Regions from separate parts of the Homo sapiens genome. Here region 1 is linked to region 2. The links come from fine-mapping of genetic effects on gene expression. Tissue or cell type: tibial nerve. Region 2 holds a variant in brackets; the other region holds the start of a gene. All regions are shown on one strand. Distances are between the middles of the regions.

Region 1 (4,123 bases), 22 kb before region 2:
TATCCCTTCCATCTGGTGGGTGGCAGAAGGGGAGAGAGGAATGTCTGAGCCTTTTCCTTGGAGCCAGAGTTCCCAGGGAGTGGGAGAGGAGACCTGCAGGCGTTGTCCCTGCAACTGCTCACTCCTGGTTGATTCGGGGATAGTGGGAGCAAGGGGAATGGGGCTGCTGTGTGTTGGGGGAGAGAAAGGGCTGAAAGCATGCGGTCCTTTGAGTTCAAGGGGCTGGGAGAGAGTAGGAGAAGAAAGGAGAAAGGAGTGGTCTGTTGAGAGAGAAGACTGCCAAGCCGGGGGGCCTCTTTCCCTTGGCCCTGGGACAGTCTGGCCTTCCACAACCCCAGAGGGGGCAGCTCAGGTGTCTCGGATCAGATGTCCCCATCCTTCCCCAGGCCTAGGGGGCTGGACAATGGCCCCTGATCGAATGACATCCCAGTTCTTCAATGGGGCCCTTGTGAGTGTCATCTGAACTCCGGACCTGAGAAGCAGTTGTCACAGAGACATGGGGGAGATGGAACCCAAGCTGTGGCTGATGAGGGGATAAGGGGTGCTTGAGGGAGGGGTGCTGGTAGCTTGATTACCTGCTCCATGCCAGAGGGGCAGCTGGAGGTCACCTGGAGCCCTAAAGCAGCCTGGGATTTTACGTGGTGGCAGTTCTGAGAGGACTTGGGGGCAGGGGAGATGGGGAAACAAAGAGGTAAGAATGGGGGGAAAGAGGAGTCAAGAGGTCTGGGCCAAAAATGGGAGGAGGAGAAAGGGGAGGTCCTGTGGAGGTCGAGTTGGGAAGGGGCACAGCACCCTACATCTCTGCTTCCCCATATCATGGGAGCTTTGCCCTGCCACCCCCAGACTCCCCCGGGACCTGAGCTCTTGGCAAGGCAGGGTGGGGGTGGCAGAGACTAAGGCTGGCAGGAGAGGTGGGGGCAGAAACAGCTGTTGTATCTGCTCTCTTCTTACCCCACAGGAGGCGAGGCAGGGGAGGGCTGGGACCCTTCCCAACACCTGGGAGACAGAGGGGGCCTTGGCAGGGACTTGAGGGCTCCCTGTGGGAGGGCCAGGCGGTCAGGAAGCTCATGGTGGGTTCCCCACTGGCTTCCTCCTTTGCTGAGCTGCCAGCTCTCTCTCCGACCTTCAGTTCATTTGTCTCTCATCACCACCTTCCAAACCCTGTCTCCCCCAAATCCCAAACTGCCCTCACCCTGACTGACTCCTCCCAGATCCTCAGTGCTCCACAGTGCTATGGTCCCCAGCCTCTTGGAGCCCTTCTGAAGACCCCTCTCCCTGAAGCTGGCAGGCCAGGGACTAGCCCAGTGGGGCAGGGTACTCACGGTTGGCCTGGGCCTGAGGTGGGAGCAGGTTCTGGACAGATGGCCAAGGTTGCAAATGTGGCTGCTGGAGCTGTGTGTGGAGACCTGTCTTCAACAGTCCCTCCCCCGCTGACCCCCCCACCGACTCCACCCCTTCACAGACGAACACCCTGTGGGGCAAGGGGCCAGGAGCAGACAGAGGCGCCCTCTGTCTCCTGGGCTGGAACAGGCGGCCCTTGTCTCTTTCCCAGCCTTGCTTGCCCCGTTCCTTTCTCTCCAGGCAGCAGTGGATGGTGCAGGGGAAAGAGGTGGGAAGGAGGTCCTGGGAGGGACACTGGATGTCTTACCCCAAGCTGGGCCTTGCAGTACCTGTGGCTGGCTGTGCTGGTTGAGCCCGGTAAGGGGGGAATTCTGCTGAGGGGGTCTTAGTCTGTGGCTCCTCCATGGGGCCTCACTGAGAGGACCCTCAGTGAGAAACTTAGTCTTGGGAGTCTGAGAACCCACAGAGGGATTTCAATCCAGGACTCTTCTCTGGGGGTCTCAACCTGGATCCCCCTCTGTGTGTGGGGCCTCAGCCTGGGGTTCTCTGAGGGATCTTGGTCTGTAGCATCCTTTGTGGGATCTCATTCCAAGGGGCCTCTGTGTGTGTCTCAGATTGGGCCTCTCAGTGTTGAGCTCCCTTGATTGGTTGCCTCCCTCTTCCCCCCTCAGCATACACACTCCTGATTAGACATGGGTATGGTGGCAGCAGCCCCCAGTATTGAGAGGACTAGGACCCTGGGACCCCTGCCGAACGAGATCTGTCCAGGCAGCTCCTCTCCCTGACCAAGTGGGGGCGCTCGTGTGGCTGGCAGGGAGCCCGGGTCCAGACCTGAGGGCTCAGGGCAAGCGGCCTGATTGGGCTGTCTCTGGTCTTCAGAATCGACCACGGAAATTTGACACCTCCGGGCTTGGAAGCAGCTCTCTCCTCCTTCCCCGCTGCTTATAAACCTCAGCCCTGAGGCTCCAGCTCACTCTACCCCATCTCCTTGCCGGGTGAGTCTCATGGCTGACCCTGGAGGGAGGCTGGAGATCATTTTTTCTTCCTGGGCTCCCAGGTCCCTCCCCCAGAGCCAGCTCAGACAGGAATTCAGGAAGGAGCTTTGGATGATCGAGCAACAGCGCGTGCAGGAGTGTGTGACGGGGTGGACAGAAAAGAGAATGCCTCTTCCAGCCCCACCCGCCGCACCCCAGGGGGTTGTGAGTGCCTGTACTAAACCCGTCCTGGAGCAGGGAGTCAGAGACGCCCCGTTCCAGGACCCTTGTCACCGGGAGACAGGAGCGGGGAGGATCTGTGGGGTCCTGGGTTCAGCACTCTGCCCTGCTGCCGCTGAGGAGAGGTAAGGGTGGAGCGGGGCAGAGAAAATGGGTCTGTTCAGACGGAGCCAGCTCTGACCACAGGGGACATTTGCCAGACCCTGTGCTTCTCTGCTGGGAGGAGCGGTTAGAGTGTGTGTGGGCGGATGCGAGTGGCCGGAGACCAGGGCCCAACATAAACAAGCTTTGGAGACAAACAACCTTATGACCTGTGAGTCTGGGTGAGACAAGAAGGGATTCTTGAGACAGACACGCCACAGAGGGGCCACCAGACTTGAAGGACTCCAAGAAGGACCTTCAACTGAAGACCTCCTCTCAAGTAGAGGGGTCTCCAGATCGAGGGATCACCACAGAGGGGTCCCTAAGCCACAGACATTTAAAAAGGATCCCGGATTGTGAGACCTACAGAAGAGGGGGTTTCTGGAGCTGAATCTCCTGCCCCCACCAAAACTGAGATGCCGTTGCCTGGTCTGCTGCCCCAAGCTCAACCCCTGTCCTCTCCCTCTTTCCCCATATGCCCCCTCCAGGCTGAGACTGATGTGATAACACCAAGGCAGGGACCTTCTGAACCATTCCTGCATCTTGGGGCTCCCTGACTCTCCCTCTCTGCTCCTTCTCTCTTCCACAGGTCAGCCCTGACAAAGGTCAGCTAGCCCCTTGAGGACATCAGCTTTGGCCTCAGGGTCCTAATGGCAGCAGAACCACTGACAGAGCTAGAGGAGTCCATTGAGACCGTGGTCACCACCTTCTTCACCTTTGCAAGGCAGGAGGGCCGGAAGGATAGCCTCAGCGTCAACGAGTTCAAAGAGCTGGTTACCCAGCAGTTGCCCCATCTGCTCAAGGTAGGCAGAAGTCTGGGACTGAGATTTTGTGAGATGATGATTATGGGACACTGTGTTTAGGACGTGATGGTGCCGAGTACGGTGAGGTGACCACAAGAAAGGGTGTGGGTGGCTGCATGTGTCAATGGTTGCAGGTTTTCTTTTGTTTTTTCGAGACAAAGTCTCACTCTGTTGCCCAGGCCGGAGTGCAGTGGTGTGATCTTGGCTCACTGCAACCTCCATCTCCGGGGTTCAAGTGATTCTCCTGCCTCAGCCTCCTGAGTAGCTGGGATTACAGGTGTGTGCCACCACGCCGAGCCTATTTCTGTATTTTTAGTAGAGACAGGGTTTCACCAGGTTGGCCAGGCTGGTCTCGAACTCCTGACCTCAGGTGATCCACCCGCCTCGGCCTCCCAAAGTGCTGTGGTTACAGGCGCAAGCCACTGCGCCTGACCCGGTTGTGAGTTTTCTTGCCTGGTGTGTACATGTGTGTGTTTGTGTGTCCATGCATATAATTAGGTAAGCAAAGATACTATGTGCCAGTGGGAGTATGGTCTTGTGTCAGAAGATGCTGTTGGGTTCTTGTGTATGCTCTGTGCCTTTCTGGTCTAATTTCCCCAAGACAGGACTGGACCCAGAGCTGGC
Region 2 (4,123 bases):
CACAGGGAACCGGAAGGCTGCGGATAAGCTCATCCAGAACCTGGATGCCAATCATGATGGGCGCATCAGCTTCGATGAGTACTGGACCTTGATAGGCGGCATCACCGGCCCCATCGCCAAACTCATCCATGAGCAGGAGCAGCAGAGCAGCAGCTAGAGACCCCTTTGGCCACACCTTCCAGGCACTGGCCTGATGCCCCGCCCTGGTGCTCTCCCCAGGCTCCCTCCTCAGCCTCCTGCCCACCCAGGGCCCTTTACTCTCTTCTCCCTCCAGACCTTCCTCTGACCCTTGCTGAACTGGGGTCCCTTTGTGAGTGTCTCAGTCTAGAGGTACCTCCCTCCCTGGGGGGTCTCAGCTCCTGGAGTCGCAGGCCCTTGGGGCCCCTCTGTGAGATCTCAATGCTGTCTGGGGACCCTAAGAGTTTTCTCACCTGTTCAGTCTCATCTAACCTTCCAATGTCTGATGTTCCTGCCAAATTCCTGCCTGATTCTGGGTCCGTCCTGACCTCCAAAGGTCAGCTTGGTGCTTGAGGTCTCCCTGCTCTTGGTGGCAGTGGTAGCAGCAACAGCAGCAGCAGCAGCAGCAGCAGCAGCAGAGACCTCTCCACTTTCCCTTAGCCCCTCTGCTGGGTAGAGAGGCACTTTCAGGGACTTCCCTCCAGCTGCCTCTTCATCTGGGAATGAGCTAAGCAAGGCTGAGCCTCCTCCTGTTGCTTGAAATAATGATGATATAAAGGCTGGATTTGGAGTTTGTATCCCCTGGTCCCTCTGGGATGCTCATTAAAACCTTCCCACTCCTTGGAAACGTTTTATGCTTTGGTGGTCTTAGCCCTTGGGCCCTGTGATAAGAGAGAATCTCACAGAAGAACCTCAAAGGCAGAGCAAGAAAGGAGCCAGAACTCCTAAATTCCAACAGGCACTGTCAGCTGTGGGCCAGCAGCTCCCTCCATCCTCCTCCATAAAGGGCCAAAGGCCTTAGGTCACCATCTCTGGGCCCTTTTAGCCCAGACTCAGACTCAAATTCAACTTCCAGGCACACTGTAAGTCCCGTTTAGTCCTCACTGCAATTCCACGAGAGAGGGACCATGACCCTTAGTCTTTTTTTTTTTTTTTTTTTGGAGCGGAGAGTTTAATAGGCAAGAAGGGGCAAGACGGAAGGGAGAAGGAAGAAGCTCCCCTGTACAGAGACAGAGGGACGGAGGCCCCAAAGCTGAGAGAGGGAACCCCACCTGCCACAGATACCATCTAGGTATATATACAGAGGCTGGAGGAGGAGGAGTCTGATTTGTATAGGGCTCAGGGGATTGGTTTGACTATGCGTGTCATTCACGTAGCCCTCGGAAAAAGCTGGCCCTCACACCCTAGCCTTTTTTTTTTTTTTTTTTTTTTTTGAGATGGAGTTTCACTCTTGTTGCCCAGGCTGGAGTGCAATGGCGTGCAATCTCGGCTCACCGCAAGCTCCGCCTCCCGGGTACAAGCAATTCTCCTGCCTCAGCCTCCCGAGTAGTTGAGAATACAGGTATGTGCCACAATACCCCGCTATTTTTGTTGTATTTTTAGTAGAGACGGGATTTCTCCATGTTGGTCAGGCTGGTCTGGAACTCCTGACCTCAGGTGATCCGCCCGCCTCGGCCTCCCAAAGTGTTGGGATTACAGGCGTGAGCCACCGCACCTTGCCCCACCCTAGCCTTTTAATATGCAAATGCAGGTCTACACACCTGGGGATATGTGAGGGCAGCCACATTGCCAGGAACATGTGGGGAAAGGGCAAGAAGGCCGGGGGAATCACCATGTTTGGGTGGACCCAGTTTCTAAGGGCTTGCATTTGCATATCAAAGGTTGCCAACCTGGCTCTAAGAGCCGGGGCTTTACAAGAAACTTTTCTGGAGATGCTTCAAAAAAATGAAAACTCCAGCCTGACCAACATGTAGAAACCCCGTCTCTACTAAAAATACAAAATTAGCCGGGCGTGGTGGCGCATGCCTGTAATCCCAGCTACTCGGGAGGCTGAGGCCAGAGAAT[C/T]GCTTGAACCCAGGAGGCGGAGGTTGTGGTGAGCCAAGATCGCACCATTGCACTCCAGCCTGGGCGACAAGAGCAAAACTCCGTCTCAAAAAAAAAGAAAAAGAAACAAAACAAAAAACTTCCCAAGGACCCAAGGACCCATTTTCCTCTCTATCTGCCTAAAATAATTTCTTAATAACTCCTACAACATTCCCCCCTGTGGAGATGCCACACTAACTGCTGTTAGGGAGTTTTGGGCGACGACTCCTTCTGGCTACTTCTTGTTGCAAAAGGGCGTCGAATGGGGAAGAGCAGCTAGGGCTCCTCCTGGGGTCAATCTAAGGGTCCTCAGAAGAATGATGTGTCTATGTGTGGTTCTGTTTACAGCACCATTTGGAGTTTGATTGCTTCTAGATGAGAAGAAACAATTTGAGTTATAGTATTGTGTATACAGGGTCCAAATATCAATACAAGACACATAAGCAAGAGAGGGCTTAATAAAGGGGTTAACCAATTCCATAAAGAAGACTGGAATTTATTAAAGAGGCATTGTAGCCACTCGGGGATCAATAATTTTGATTTGATTTTTAAGTACTTGTAGATTTTCTTTTAACTAGAGGCATTAATCCGAAAGCAGCATGTTTCATTGAAAACTGCATCACTAAACCCAATAAAAAGTCCTAGCAGATTCAGTGGTAGTAAAACTTTTATGCTTCCTTTTCATTAGTAGCTATTATCCCTGCTATAAGGATAATGATTAAGCAAAATATGACAGCAATGGAAACTCTCTGTTTAATATTTCAGTTAGAAGGTGCTACCATGTATAATCCTATTGCAAATAATAGAGTGAGTATAGCTATTTCCATAAGTGTGGTGTGGTAGATAATTTCCATCTAAACTTTTACCTGTCAAGATATAGAATTCCCCTTTGGGGGTCTATGAAGTTCCTTGGTTTTATTTTCCTAAACGAAGAAACCTCTGGGTTATGGGCACCCTACTCACTTTTATTACCTGGTAGAATTTGCAGAATAATTGCCCAGAACTAATATATTGATTCAGATTTTATATTACCCATCCCTTAATTTTTCTTCCAAGCTGCAGGAGATCACTGCTTGATTCACAGGAATAAGCAGGGTTAGTCTAAAATGTAGGCGAAAAGCTTGAAAACAAAAACAAAAAACAAAAAAATGTATGATAAGCTTTGGAGCACAATTTTTCTCTCTAGTCCTCGTTCTTGGTAAAAACAAGTTATGAATAAACTGTAGTCTTATACTTGCCCTGATTATTTGCATAAAGTGCAGCAAGAATGGTTATTTGTACACAGGCCTTTTGATTGGCTTTGATGAAACTCTGTTTCACAAGGAATTTCAGATAAGACTATTAAAGCCTAAAGTTTGTATTTGAGGATACAAACCTCAAATACCTGTTAGTTGGGTGATCCTCTCCTCTTGAGGTCCCAAGATAAACTCGGAGCTCCCAGACGTGTTAAAAAATGACATTCTTTACTGACTACAGATTAGGAACCCTGTCCAGAGACTGTGTAGACAAGGTATGAGGCCAGTTCTCCCAAAGCGGCTTTTATTGGCTCTGCTTGTCAAGCTTGATTCAGATAGTTTCCAAATTCTAGAGGAACCAGGCAGAGAAATAAACATGCTCCAAATTTTGTTCATAGGAGTACACCTTACTCAATTATTAAAGGCCACAAATAGCTTAAAATAAGTTTCCTTGACTCAGTCTGATGAACGAATTTCCTTTCCTGGCCAACGCACTAAAATGATACGGCTCTGATGAGTGGAGGAACACCAGGGTTCTTGGTGCTCATGCCAGTTTAGATAAAACGACATGGACACACGTGGAGTGGTTTTAAGGAGCGGAGAGTTTAATAGGCAAGAGGGACAAGAAGGAAGGGAGAAGGAAGAAGCTCCCCTATACAGAGACAGAGGGAGGGGGGCTCCAAAGCCAAGAGAGGGAACCCCCATGACCCTTAGTCTTGAGCCATGAGTGGCACTGAGGCTCTGAATTCTCATTAGTAGACTATCCCGATACAGACAGAAGTTGTGGGATGGAGAAGTAGAGGTGCAAGGAAGAAGGAGTGTGGGAGGCCAGGTGGAATGGAAGCCAT

The links. PIP is the estimated chance that this variant, and not a neighbour inherited with it, causes the effect.
Region 1: S100A13 starts here. The variant in region 2 is the best candidate, but not a certain one, in a credible set for the expression of S100A13 in tibial nerve (GTEx, PIP 0.53).

What each region holds. Positions count from the first base shown.
Region 1 is chr1:153,625,696-153,629,818 of GRCh38, reverse strand. S100A13 (S100 calcium binding protein A13) reads left to right here and starts at 2,314. Exons shown (of 3, transcript NM_001024211.2): 1 at 2,314-2,336; 2 at 3,286-3,499. The coding sequence starts at 3,347. S100A1 (S100 calcium binding protein A1) reads right to left here and starts at 1,385. Exons shown (of 3, transcript NM_006271.2): 1 at 1,323-1,385. RefSeq lists enhancers at 417-1,240, 2,067-2,892.
Region 2 is chr1:153,603,568-153,607,690 of GRCh38, reverse strand. It overlaps S100A16 (S100 calcium binding protein A16), which reads left to right. Exons shown (of 3, transcript NM_080388.3): 3 at 1-805. The coding sequence ends at 157. Among named protein-coding and RNA genes, the nearest start is that of S100A16, 7.5 kb to the left of the region's middle. RefSeq lists an enhancer at 1,706-2,661. The variant C/T (reference allele first, on the strand shown) is at 2,023.